Linked DNA regions of Homo sapiens: regions 1, 2 and 3 are each reported to be linked to region 4. Evidence: microRNA targets listed by miRTarBase, many of them from high-throughput screens and not tested one by one. Region 4 holds a microRNA gene; each other region holds the end of a gene's coding sequence. Distances are between the middles of the regions.
Evidence for each region. The annotated mature microRNA hsa-miR-21-5p reads UAGCUUAUCAGACUGAUGUUGA and lies in region 4 at 2,106-2,127, shown strand. An mRNA with a match to its seed (bases 2 to 7 or 8) in the 3' UTR can be bound and repressed. Matches are read on the target gene's strand: a 7mer-m8 pairs with bases 2 to 8, a 7mer-A1 pairs with bases 2 to 7 and ends in A, and an 8mer does both.

Region 1 (3,104 bases), not on the chromosome of region 4:
CTACATGGCAAAACCCTGTCTCTGCTAAAAATACAAAAATGAGCTAGGCATGGTGGCACATGCCTGAAATCCCAGCTACACAGCAGGCTGAGGCAGGAAAATTGCTTGAACCCGGGAGGCAGAGGTTGCAGTGAGCTGAGATTGTACCATTGCACTCCAGCCTGGGTGACAGTGGGACTCCGTCTTCAAAAAAAATTTTTTTTCAACATTTAAACCTATTGTTTTAACCTTATTTTTATTCTTCCCACAGTGGAATCTCTAGCGTTGTCACTCATGGCTGGCATGGAACAAAGTTAAATGTCTTCAGCGTAATAAATATCTCCGACTTTGTCATCATACATGTACATTTCCACCATGTGCAGCTGAAAAGTGAAAATATTTTTATTTTGGTTTATTTGTAAAACTTGTCCACAGTCAGCCTGGCACAGTCGCTCATGCCTCTAATCCCAGCACGATGGGAGGCCAAGACAGGCAGATCACTTGAGCCCAGGAGTTTGAGGCCAGCCTGGGCAACATGGTGAAACCCGGTGTCTACCAAAAATACAAAATGTATCCAGACATGGTGGTGTGTACCTGTAGTCCCAGCTACTCAGGAGGCAAAGATGGGAGGATTACTTGAGCCCAGGAGGTCAAGGCTACAGTGAGCCATGATTGCACTACTGCAGTGCAACCTGGGTGACAGAGTGAGACCCTGACTCAGAAAGAACCACTTGCCCACAGTCCAGACAGATGGATTGTAGGTGGGTTTTCTGGAGATTAGTAGATACTGTATAGAGTTGTATACATAAAATTGTGTCAGTAGTACAAAGTGTATATAGGCTGTTTACTCTTACATTTCCTACTGTAAGATACAGATTTATGGTACTGATACCTTTAAATTATATCATATTTTGAAAATGTAATTACTGATATTCAAAATAAATTAAAGGACTTAAAATCATTTTATTATCCTTTTGCTGCTGTCCTACAGTCACAGAAGCTTTTTATATAGAGTTTTACATGTTGTCTTCCCTAAAAGTTGTCTTAGATGTAGCTGTCCTAGAAATGTTTATATTTTGGCTGGGTGTAGTTTCTCAAGCTTGTAATCCTGGCACTTTGAAAGACTGAGGTGAGAGGATTCCTTGAGGCCAGCAGTTTAAGACCTGCCTAGGCAACATATGAGACCCCATCTCTCCAAAAACAACTTAAAAATTAGCCAAGGGCTGGGCACGGTGGCTCACCCCTGTAATCCCAGCACTTTGGGAGGCCGAGGTGGGCGGATCATCTGAGGTCAGGAGTTCAAGACCAGCCTGGCCAATGTGGTGAAACCCCGTCTCTACTAAAAATACAAAAAAATTAGCCAGGTGTGGTGGCCCACATCTGTAATCCCAGCTACTTGGGAGGCTGAGGCAGGAGAATCACTTGAACCCAGGAGGCAGAGGTTGCGGTGAGCCTAGATTGTACCACTGCACTCCATCCTGGGTGACAGAGCAAGACTCCGAAAAAAAAAAATTAGCCAAGCATGGTGGCACATGCCTGTGGTCCCAGCTACTTGGGAGGCTGAGGTGGGAGGATCGATTGAGACCGGGAGGTCAAGGCTGCAGTGAACCATGATTGCATCACTGCACTCCAGCCTGGACAACAGAGCAAGACCTTGTCTCCAACAAAAAAAAAGAAAGAAAGAAATGTATATATGTTTTGTTGTGCCTGAGAAGTTCTACATGGAAAATAGCTTCAACTGATAGCGATAAATGTAAAAGGCCAACTTCACTTAGGGCCAACTGTTGGTACATACTATTGTTTGGTATTTCCTTGTTTTTTGAAATGTGGAGGCTCACTCTGTTACCTAGGCTGCAGTGCAGTAGCACGATCTCGGCTCACTACAACCTCTGCCTCCTGGATTCAAGTGATTCTCCTGCCTCAGCCTCCCGAGTAGCTGGGATCTCAGGCGTGCACCACCACGCCCAGCTAATTTTTGTATTTTTAGTAGAGACAGGGTTTCACCTTGTTGGCCAGACTGGTGTCGAACTCCTGGCCTCAGGTGATCCACCCGCCTTAGCCTCCCAAAGTGCTGGGATTACAGGCGTGAGCCACTGTGCCTGGCAATATTTCTGAGCAATTTTTGTGAGCTAACCAGTTATATTTTGAATAGAATTATGCTTACTATTAAATTTTTCCATATTTTCTTTTTATAGAGTGAGACTATCTTTAAAAAAAAAAAAGGCCACACATAGTGACTCATGCCTGCAATCCCAGCACTTTGGGAAGCCAAGGTGGGTGGATCATGAGGTCAGGAGTTCGAGACCAGCCTGACCAATGTGGTGAAACCTTGTCTCTACTAAAAATACAAAAATTAGCTGGGCGTGGTGGCACACACCTGTAATCCTAGCTACTCAGGAGGCTGAGGCCAGAGAATTGCTTGAACCTGGGTGGCCGGAGGTTGCAGTGAGCTGAGATCATGCCACTGCACTCCAGCCTGGGCGACAGAGCGAGACTCTGTCTCAGAAAAAAATAAGAAAAAGAAAAAAAATATGAAAGCTAGAACTGGAAACAACAAAATGTGGAAGTTAGGACTAGAAAGCTTCTAGAAGCAAACATGGGAAATTAACACTACAAACTTGGGGTAGACAAAGATTTCTTACATAAAATCAAAAAAGGGGCCGAGCACGGTGGCTCATGCCTGCAGTCCCAGCACTTTGGGAGGTCAAGGTGGGTGGATCACCTGAGGTCAAGAGTTCCAGACCAGCCTGACCAATATGGGGAAACCCCGTCTCTACTAAAAATACAAAAATCAGCCGGGCGTGGTGGCGCACACCTGTAGTCCCAGCTACTCAGGAGGCTGAGACAGGAGAATCGCTTGAACCTGGGAGGCAGAGGTTGCAGTGAGCCGAGATCACACCACTGCACTCCAGCCTGGGTGACAGAGCAAGACTCCGTCTCAAAAGGAAAAAAAAAAAGGAATTATTGGTGAATTGGACATCACCAAAAAACATTGCTAGGAAAATGGTAATACAGGCCACAGACTGGGAGAGAACATTTCCCCTTAGCCCCTTTCAGGAACCATGTCATGCCCAGAGGCAACCACTGTTGCCCAGGGTGTCCAGAAGTAACTATGTTCAGAGTGT
Region 2 (3,104 bases), not on the chromosome of region 4:
GAAGCAGGCATGTCTTACACGGCTGGGGCAGGAGGACAATGAACAAATATTAACAAATCCTAACAGTTTAGTAAGTTGGCCCTTGAAATCTGTGGAGTATTGGTTTCAGGAACCCCCGCTTGGATGCCAAAATCTATGGATGCTCAAGTCTCTGATATGAGCCTTCACAGTATTTGCATATAAACTACCCGCATTCTCCCACATACTTTAAATCATCTCCAGATTACTTGTAACACCTAATAAAATGTAAATGCTATGGAAATAGTTGTTACCTTGTATTTTAAAATTTGTATTATTTTTTGTTGTTGTACTACTATTTTATTTTTCCTGAGTATTTTCAATCCCCAGTTGGTTCAATCTGTGGATACAGAGAGCCGACTGTTTTAAGATTGCAAAAATAAGTATTTTTGAAATCTTCACATCCATTGTTAAGGTATTAAAAAATAATCACTCTGCAAATACTTGGACTCAGTATCAAGCTGAGAAGCCTTCCCCTCTATCTTTTAAAGTGAAGCCAGCTAAAAGCTTTGTCAGCTCGCTCTTGAAAGCAATAATATGGTCACAAAACTTGCTGTGACCATTCTGTCTCTTTACAAATTTTGTAAGGCTGGCCTGCTTTTTTCTTCCTTCTAAATGACTGATTGAGGTGATGATTAATCCTCTATAGCATGTAAAACAAGGTTCTCAGGAGCTCCGAGTCCTCCACGGTAGAGGACAGGGAAGCTGTTGTGCTCAAGAATTAATCCATCCGAGGGAATCAAAGGCAGCCACAATGCAGTCATCAGCATGTTTTCACTATGCAAGCCCCACACTTCCTACTTAGAAAACACATAACCATTACCCCATTCTGTATTCTCACAAGGCTCCCTTTTATTTATTTGTGTTTGTTATTATATAGCTCATACCGACAAGTTTGTGCGATTCCACTGGTGTGCACACATCCATTGAGACAGGAAAAAAAGAAGTGTCTATTGCAAACTTGTTAAAAGGGAAAAGGGACTCCCACTGTTTTCTCCCTTTGGCCAGGCTTCTATTTAGAGGACAGAGCTTTAACTCTTTATGTCCCAGGAGAGAATGACTCCTTTGTGTAATTTTAAATTCTGCAATGGCTTCTTTACTGATGGAAAGTCATAAATGAGAGAAAAAATGTTATTCATAGATTGCTGCAATCCTAGAAGCTGATGTGTCTTCAGAGTTACACAGAGTACATTAGACAGCACATGGGAAAACTTTTACTTCATTCTCAACATGCTTAAGCTATTTTTACAAATCAGTTAAACTATGTCTACACAAAGCTTAGAAGCACTTTATTTGGGAGCAATCAGTATTTTTGTCAAAACTTTTGGACAGGTCTTTATTTTTGTTTTGGAAGGTTCAACACGAATTGTGCAAAATCTCTGGATATATTAGTTTAGCGATATGGTTGTTGAAGAAAATAATATGTTTTAAGCATTCACAACGTGACCTCCCCCTAGAGCTTTTGTTGATGATATGAATGATCTGGATTCAGTGAGTTCAGTGGTCATTTAATCCAGTCCTACCTCTCATACAGCAGACAGATAGATAGATGAACAGACAGACAGATAACTAGATGTCAAATAAACTCCTGCTCCCTAAAAGTACTTTTGCAATTTCAGTGAAGACATGGCTAAAACTGAGTGGCACCTTTATGAGACTGGTGCTTTTTAAATCAAAGAAGATAGAAATGTACCTTTAATCTACGGCACTGCACCAGAGCAGAACATAAGCTATTCCTTCCCCCATGACAGAGGCATGAAGCTGGGGAGGACACAGGCATTCACCTTGACACAGAATGGGTCCTGGGATGTCTACTTCTGGGATGAACTGGAACATGAAGAGTTAAGTGCCCACATGTTCTCTCACCAACCTCACTCCCTGCCACATTCCAAAGGGATAGGGCTCAGTGACAAGACAGCCCAGTACCCAAAATGAAGAGGGAGGGTTCTCGAATTAATTAACTGGAAATGAGTCTTGTCAATGTTTTGGAAAGGCAGAGGGGTGAAAAGAGATTGCTAGAATTAATCACAGTGAGAAACTACTTCAACCGCCTGCCAGAGTTCAGAAAACCCAATGAGAAGAGGAATATAAAGAATGATGCTGACTTGCCATCTGAAGGGACAAACACAGTCAAGCCAACATCCAAGTTTTGTCAAATAAGGGTTGTGCCCTCCAAGAGACTGGTTTATTATCTGCTGTCACAGTAAGTACAATATATTCTTTAAATGCACGTTCTATCCAGGGGGACAAAGGCAAACCACACAGTTACATTAATGCAAAGAAACAAGAGAACACTCAGTTACTTTCACTTTTAGCTTATACACGTTAAACTCTACTACCTAAAAGATTTGTATGTTCCCAAATTTGTACTTATAAATCTTCAAACACTTGCAATTTCACATACGGTAGAAGATGAAAAATCCATGAAACAGATTCCAAAAATTCAGGTATTTGGATGTAGTTCATTCACTAAAGAAGAAGAAAGAAACAAAATTGCAGATGTAGCAAATCTGTTCACAAGATTCATCAGACAAAAGGGGAAAAAACCCAGAACTTTGGTCAGTGGTGACAAATAACTTAGAGAAACCTAAAACAATTCATGCAATATTATTCAAGGAGTTCTGTTTTTTAAACTATAGTGAACATTAACTATCTTTTAAAGAAAATCTAATTCCTATGAGTAACTTACTTTTAGACCATGTATAACTTTTGATATGCCTTTTGTATTTCTCACCCAGAATGAGTTTGAAATTGTCCCTCTTTTAAGAAAATGGCAGCATAAAGCCGGAACAAAAAAACCGTTTGCAGCTATCTTTAGGGCTTTCCTCGGTAAACCACTATAGAGGGCACAATTCTCCCATCCATATTCTTACAAAGAGCCTCGTGCTTGAAGCAATGGGGAAGTGGAAACAGCTTTCTACAAACCAAAGGGAAGGACAGTTCCCTCGAGGGTACTTACTGGCTTAGGGGTGTCTCTAGTAGATTTCAGGATCAGCTTTTCGCCTTTCTTTTCAACTTCAAAACCCACTTTTTTAAGTAGGGATGCATCTGCCAGCCCCTGTTCCTCCATCTTTGCAATCAAATCT
Region 3 (3,095 bases), 21 Mb from region 4:
CCCCCTCCGAGGGCACCAACACCAGCGGGGCGTCCGAGTGTGAGTCAGTCAGCGACAAGGCTCCCAGCCCTGCCACCCTGCCAGCCACCTCCTCCTCCCTGCCCAGCCCAGCCACCCCATCCCATGGCTCTCCCAGTTCCCATGGGCCTCCAGCCACCCACCCTACCTCCCCCACTCCCCCTTCGACAGCCAGTGGGGCCACCACAGCTGCCAACGGGGGTAGCTTGAACTGCCTGCAGACACCATCCTCCACCAGCAGGGGGCGCAAGATGACTGTCAACGGCGCTCCCGTGCCCCCCTTAACTTGAGGCCAGGGACCCTCTCCCTTCTTCCAGCCAAGCCTCTCCACTCCTTCCACTTTTTCTGGGCCCTTTTTTCCACCTCTTCTACTTTCCCCAGCTCTTCCCACCTTGGGGGTGGGGGGCGGGTTTTATAAATAAATATATATATATATGTACATAGGAAAAACCAAATATACATACTTATTTTCTATGGACCAACCAGATTAATTTAAATGCCACAGGAAACAAACTTTATGTGTGTGTGTATGTGTGGAAAATGGTGTTCATTTTTTTTGGGGGGGGTCTTGTGTAATTTGCTGTTTTTGGGGGTGCCTGGAGATGAACTGGATGGGCCACTGGAGTCTCAATAAAGCTCTGCACCATCCTCGCTGTTTCCCAAGGCAGGTGGTGTGTTGGGGGCCCCTTCAGACCCAAAGCTTTAGGCATGATTCCAACTGGCTGCATATAGGAGTCAGTTAGAATCGTTTCTTTCTCTCCCCGTTTCTCTCCCCATCTTGGCTGCTGTCCTGCCTCTGACCAGTGGCCGCCCCCCACGTTGTTGAATGTCCAGAAATTGCTAAGAACAGTGCCTTTTACAAATGCAGTTTATCCCTGGTTCTGAGGAGCAAGTGCAGGGTGGAGGTGGCACCTGCATCACCTCCTCCTCTTGCAGTGGAAACTTTGTGCAAAGAATAGATAGTTCTGCCTCTTTTTTTTTTTTTCCTGTGTGTGTGGCCTTTGCATCATTTATCTTGTGGAAAAGAAGATTCAGGCCCTGAGAGGTCTCAGCTCTTGGAGGAGGGCTAAGGCTTTAGCATTGTGAAGCGCTGCACCCCCACCAACCTTACCCTCACCGGGGAACCCTCACTAGCAGGACTGGTGGTGGAGTCTCACCTGGGGCCTAGAGTGGAAGTGGGGGTGGGTTAACCTCACACAAGCACAGATCCCAGACTTTGCCAGAGGCAAACAGCCTTCCAATTGCCCCTCCACCCCCAGCTGAGGCCCGGTCACCTGGTCAGGACAGAGCAACTGCATCTAAAAGCACAAGAAGACAGAAACCTGTAAGCTCTGACCCCACCCCCACCCCTTGAGAGGTCAGCGGACCACCTCCTTAGGGACAGACCCTGGCAGGTCGCTGCCCACCGAGATTTCCTCAAGTGTGCATAGATCTGAGAGGAGTCGGGAGTCGAGACTCGAGATTCCATCATAGCGTAGGTGTGTGGGGTTGGGAGCCCCCTGATGGGCTTGTCTGTGTTTGCACCTTGTCCTGTGTCTGAGGTCCTGTGACTGTACCCTCCTTTGCCCTGGGACATCTGTATCTCTTGGCTTTGTAATAAATGCTGCATACTTTCTGGAGCCTGTAGTTCTTTGGGGTGGAGGGAAGAAGGGAAGGGTGCCTCTCATCTCTGGGTTTAGCCTGGCTTGGGGACCCCATACAGAATGAATCTGAACTGCCCTCTCCTGTGGCTGGTCAGGTGCCCCCAGCCCACAGAGAGGTTAAAATCTGGAGCAGGAGGCAGCACGTGGGCCTCATAGCAGTGACTGCAGGACTACCAGTCTGGTTGGGCAGGCTTGTTTTTGCCATCTTCCCCATCAGCAAACATTGAACCAGGGCCCACTCCCGCCTGCCCCAGACTGGAGACTTTTAGGTTATAAGGAATAATTCTTCCTTCATGAGCCAGCAGTGGGTACCAGAGTCTCTTGGGCTCAGCACCTGTTTCCTTTCCCACAGAAGGGGGTGCCTGTCAGAGGCCTGGAGCCAAGGCCACCTGTGGCTGGACAGCAGCAGCCCCCTCAGAGTGGGGAGCCCACTTCTGCCTTCTGCACGCGCTCACTCCTGTGGGTGCCATCGCAGTACGGGGGCCTCTGAGTGGCCTTGCAGGTACAGAGTGCCACCATGCGGGTCTCTTGGGCCTTGAACTTGAGTGGAGATAGGCCAGTGCGTTGGAAGAAGTGGGAGCCGTCACAGAAGGGCTGGTGGGGGAAAGACAGGAGTCAAAGACCTGACCCCACCTGCTGGGGCAGGGCAGGGCAGGCTGCAGGAGCTCAGGGGGAGTGGAGCACAGTGGTTAGGGTACAGGCTCCAGAGCAAGACTGCCAAGGCTCACTGAGTGACCTCTCTTATCTGTAATGTGGGGGTGATAAGAGTAGAGTTGTATGAGGAAATAAAATATGATCGTGATGCACTTTGCCTATAGTAAGTGTCTGGTAAGTATTTACAGAGTCTTTATAGCATTAGTCTCTGGGACACCCAGAGGGCCAGGACACTAATAGAGTGTGAGTGTGTGTGTGTGTGTGTGTGTGTGTGTGTCTCTGAGTCTCCACTGGATCATGAAATTCATTTACTTCCCATGTTCCTGGGTTAAAACTTCTTTGGGCTGGAGAGTACACTGTGGTAGCAATTTTGTTTGGCTCCAGGGAATAACTGGGCACGTGACAGGGAGTGAAGGTTACAAGGAGGAGGGGATGCCCCATAGCAAACTGGCTGGCTGGCACAGAAGTGTACTCCCCATCCCAGAAGCCGCTCAAGCAGAGACTGGGTAATGGAAACAGGCCCAGAAAGGTGACATGCCTTGCTAGCTGAAGGCAGAGCTGGTGCCAAGGCCTTTTTTTTTGACAGGGTCTCACTCTGTTGCCCAGGCTGGAGTGCAGTGATGCAAACACGGCTCACTGTAGCCTCAACCTCCTGGGGTCAAGCGGTCCTCCTTCCTCAGCCTCCAGTATGGCTGGGAACACAGGCCTGCCTCCATGCTAGTCTTTGGTGGGGGTAGAGGCATTTGTAGAAGCGGGGTCTCAACTTTGTTGCCCAGACTG
Region 4 (3,104 bases):
TATTTTAATAGAAACAGGGTTTCACCGTGTTAGCCAGGCTGGTCTCAAACTGACCTCAGATGATCCGCCCGCCTTGGCCTCCCAAAGTGCTGGGATTACAGATGTGAGCCACCGCGCCCGGCCAGAGCACTGTTTTTTTTAATGGCCTTGCACTCTTCTTATGGACCTTTGCTGCCCTCAGTTGACCAAACATGACATCAGAAACAGATACATTTGTGTGTTTTAAAAACAGCTCCTAATACTGGAACAAAAATATTTAACTGTCTTGACAATACTCATGAGTATCTGCATGGCGACTTCAGAGTTGAGTTTAATCAAAGAGTTTATTCTTAGGTCCTAGTAGAAGAGCTAACCTCACACTCATCCCATTCTAAACTATGTGATTCAACACTGATTTTACATCCAACAAAGTGAAATCTTGATAGTTGGGTGTAAAAAGGAGAGTAATGGAGATTTCAGAGTAGTTGGGGTTGCTTACTTTTCATTTTTAATTCTTTAGGTTTTGTAAGTTACACACTTCAAGCATTATAGATGATCCTCTTTTTACTACTGAACTAATGAAGCCTTTTTCATTGCATTGTTCTGCATTTATTTCTACAGGGAGAAAACTGGTTGTCCTGGATGTTTGAAAAGTTGGTCGTTGTCATGGTGTGTTACTTCATCCTATCTATCATTAACTCCATGGCACAAAGTTATGCCAAACGAATCCAGCAGCGGTTGAACTCAGAGGAGAAAACTAAATAAGTAGAGAAAGTTTTAAACTGCAGAAATTGGAGTGGATGGGTTCTGCCTTAAATTGGGAGGACTCCAAGCCGGGAAGGAAAATTCCCTTTTCCAACCTGTATCAATTTTTACAACTTTTTTCCTGAAAGCAGTTTAGTCCATACTTTGCACTGACATACTTTTTCCTTCTGTGCTAAGGTAAGGTATCCACCCTCGATGCAATCCACCTTGTGTTTTCTTAGGGTGGAATGTGATGTTCAGCAGCAAACTTGCAACAGACTGGCCTTCTGTTTGTTACTTTCAAAAGGCCCACATGATACAATTAGAGAATTCCCACCGCACAAAAAAAGTTCCTAAGTATGTTAAATATGTCAAGCTTTTTAGGCTTGTCACAAATGATTGCTTTGTTTTCCTAAGTCATCAAAATGTATATAAATTATCTAGATTGGATAACAGTCTTGCATGTTTATCATGTTACAATTTAATATTCCATCCTGCCCAACCCTTCCTCTCCCATCCTCAAAAAAGGGCCATTTTATGATGCATTGCACACCCTCTGGGGAAATTGATCTTTAAATTTTGAGACAGTATAAGGAAAATCTGGTTGGTGTCTTACAAGTGAGCTGACACCATTTTTTATTCTGTGTATTTAGAATGAAGTCTTGAAAAAAACTTTATAAAGACATCTTTAATCATTCCAAAATTGTGTCCGTTTTCTTGAGCGTTTTGATTTTTTACTTTTAGCTTATACCAGCTGAATGGCAGCCTTGCCTAATCCACCTACAACAAGAATTTCTTAAGCTTTCTTTTATTTGCATGAGAGAGCCACTACCAAGGCATGTTTTGTTATGCTGAAACTGGGCTGCTGCATACTGCTAAATGGCACCTCTGGGATTGGCCTACCTGGGGATTTCTTGGTTTGTGAAAACAGGAGAGGAGAAATATCTCATACAAGTGAAAGGATACTGGAGAGAGAAATTACCCATTTCTAAAAAAAAACCACACTCTGTCGTATCTGTGTTAATGTTTTCTAGCATGTACTCTGGTTTCAACAGACACAAATTTATATGTTAACCCAGTTTTCTTGCCGTTCTGTAAGTGTTTTATTCTTAGTGTGATTTTTTTCCATTGGGATGTTTTTGATTGAACTTGTTCATTTTGTTTTGCTTGGGAGGAAAATAAACAATTTTACTTTTTTCCTTTAGGAGCATTATGAGCATTATGTCAGAATAGAATAGAATTGGGGTTCGATCTTAACAGGCCAGAAATGCCTGGGTTTTTTTGGTTTGTTTTTGTTTTTGTTTTTTTATCAAATCCTGCCTGACTGTCTGCTTGTTTTGCCTACCATCGTGACATCTCCATGGCTGTACCACCTTGTCGGGTAGCTTATCAGACTGATGTTGACTGTTGAATCTCATGGCAACACCAGTCGATGGGCTGTCTGACATTTTGGTATCTTTCATCTGACCATCCATATCCAATGTTCTCATTTAAACATTACCCAGCATCATTGTTTATAATCAGAAACTCTGGTCCTTCTGTCTGGTGGCACTTAGAGTCTTTTGTGCCATAATGCAGCAGTATGGAGGGAGGATTTTATGGAGAAATGGGGATAGTCTTCATGACCACAAATAAATAAAGGAAAACTAAGCTGCATTGTGGGTTTTGAAAAGGTTATTATACTTCTTAACAATTCTTTTTTTCAGGGACTTTTCTAGCTGTATGACTGTTACTTGACCTTCTTTGAAAAGCATTCCCAAAATGCTCTATTTTAGATAGATTAACATTAACCAACATAATTTTTTTTAGATCGAGTCAGCATAAATTTCTAAGTCAGCCTCTAGTCGTGGTTCATCTCTTTCACCTGCATTTTATTTGGTGTTTGTCTGAAGAAAGGAAAGAGGAAAGCAAATACGAATTGTACTATTTGTACCAAATCTTTGGGATTCATTGGCAAATAATTTCAGTGTGGTGTATTATTAAATAGAAAAAAAAAATTTTGTTTCCTAGGTTGAAGGTCTAATTGATACGTTTGACTTATGATGACCATTTATGCACTTTCAAATGAATTTGCTTTCAAAATAAATGAAGAGCAGCTGTCCTTCTTTCCTCTTTTAAGTGTTCAGCTGTGGCATGCTCAGAGGTTCCTGCTGGATTCCAGCTGGAGCGGTGTGATACCCTTCTTTTTCAGCTGTTCGTGCCTTCCTTTCTTGTATCCACCAAAGTGGAGACAAATACATGATCTCAAAGATACACAGTACCTACTTAATTCCAGCTGATGGGAGACCAAAGAATTTGCAAGTGGATGGTTTGGTATCACTGTAAATAAAAAGAGGGCCTGGGAATTCTTGCGATTCCATCTCTACTTTGTATAAGTCTCA

Region 1: miRTarBase lists TUBGCP5 as a target of hsa-miR-21-5p. The part of its 3' UTR that is shown has no 7-base or 8-base seed match.
Region 2: the mRNA of ATXN10 is a reported target of hsa-miR-21-5p. Seed matches in the 3' UTR shown: 8mer at 2,331-2,338.
Region 3: miRTarBase lists PCGF2 as a target of hsa-miR-21-5p. The part of its 3' UTR that is shown has no 7-base or 8-base seed match.

The regions. Positions count from the first base shown.
Region 1 is chr15:22,997,013-23,000,116 of GRCh38, reverse strand. It overlaps TUBGCP5 (tubulin gamma complex component 5), which reads left to right. Exons shown (of 23, transcript NM_052903.6): 23 at 251-940. The coding sequence ends at 297. Among named protein-coding and RNA genes, the nearest start is that of CYFIP1, 18 kb to the right of the region's middle.
Region 2 is chr22:45,843,052-45,846,155 of GRCh38, reverse strand. It overlaps ATXN10 (ataxin 10), which reads right to left. Exons shown (of 12, transcript NM_013236.4): 11 at 2,978-3,104; 12 at 849-2,487. The coding sequence ends at 2,485. Among named protein-coding and RNA genes, the nearest start is that of MIR4762, 84 kb to the right of the region's middle. RefSeq lists an enhancer at 1-1,121.
Region 3 is chr17:38,732,436-38,735,530 of GRCh38, reverse strand. It overlaps PCGF2 (polycomb group ring finger 2), which reads left to right. Exons shown (of 11, transcript NM_007144.3): 11 at 1-1,633. The coding sequence ends at 308. CISD3 (CDGSH iron sulfur domain 3) reads right to left here. Exons shown (of 4, transcript NM_001136498.2): 4 at 1-2,255. The coding sequence ends at 2,076. Among named protein-coding and RNA genes, the nearest start is that of CISD3, 3.6 kb to the right of the region's middle. RefSeq lists an enhancer at 81-608.
Region 4 is chr17:59,839,168-59,842,271 of GRCh38, forward strand. MIR21 (microRNA 21) reads left to right here and starts at 2,099; the gene lies at 2,099-2,170. VMP1 (vacuole membrane protein 1) reads left to right here. Exons shown (of 12, transcript NM_030938.5): 12 at 601-3,088. The coding sequence ends at 744. RefSeq lists enhancers at 1-421, 1,145-1,874.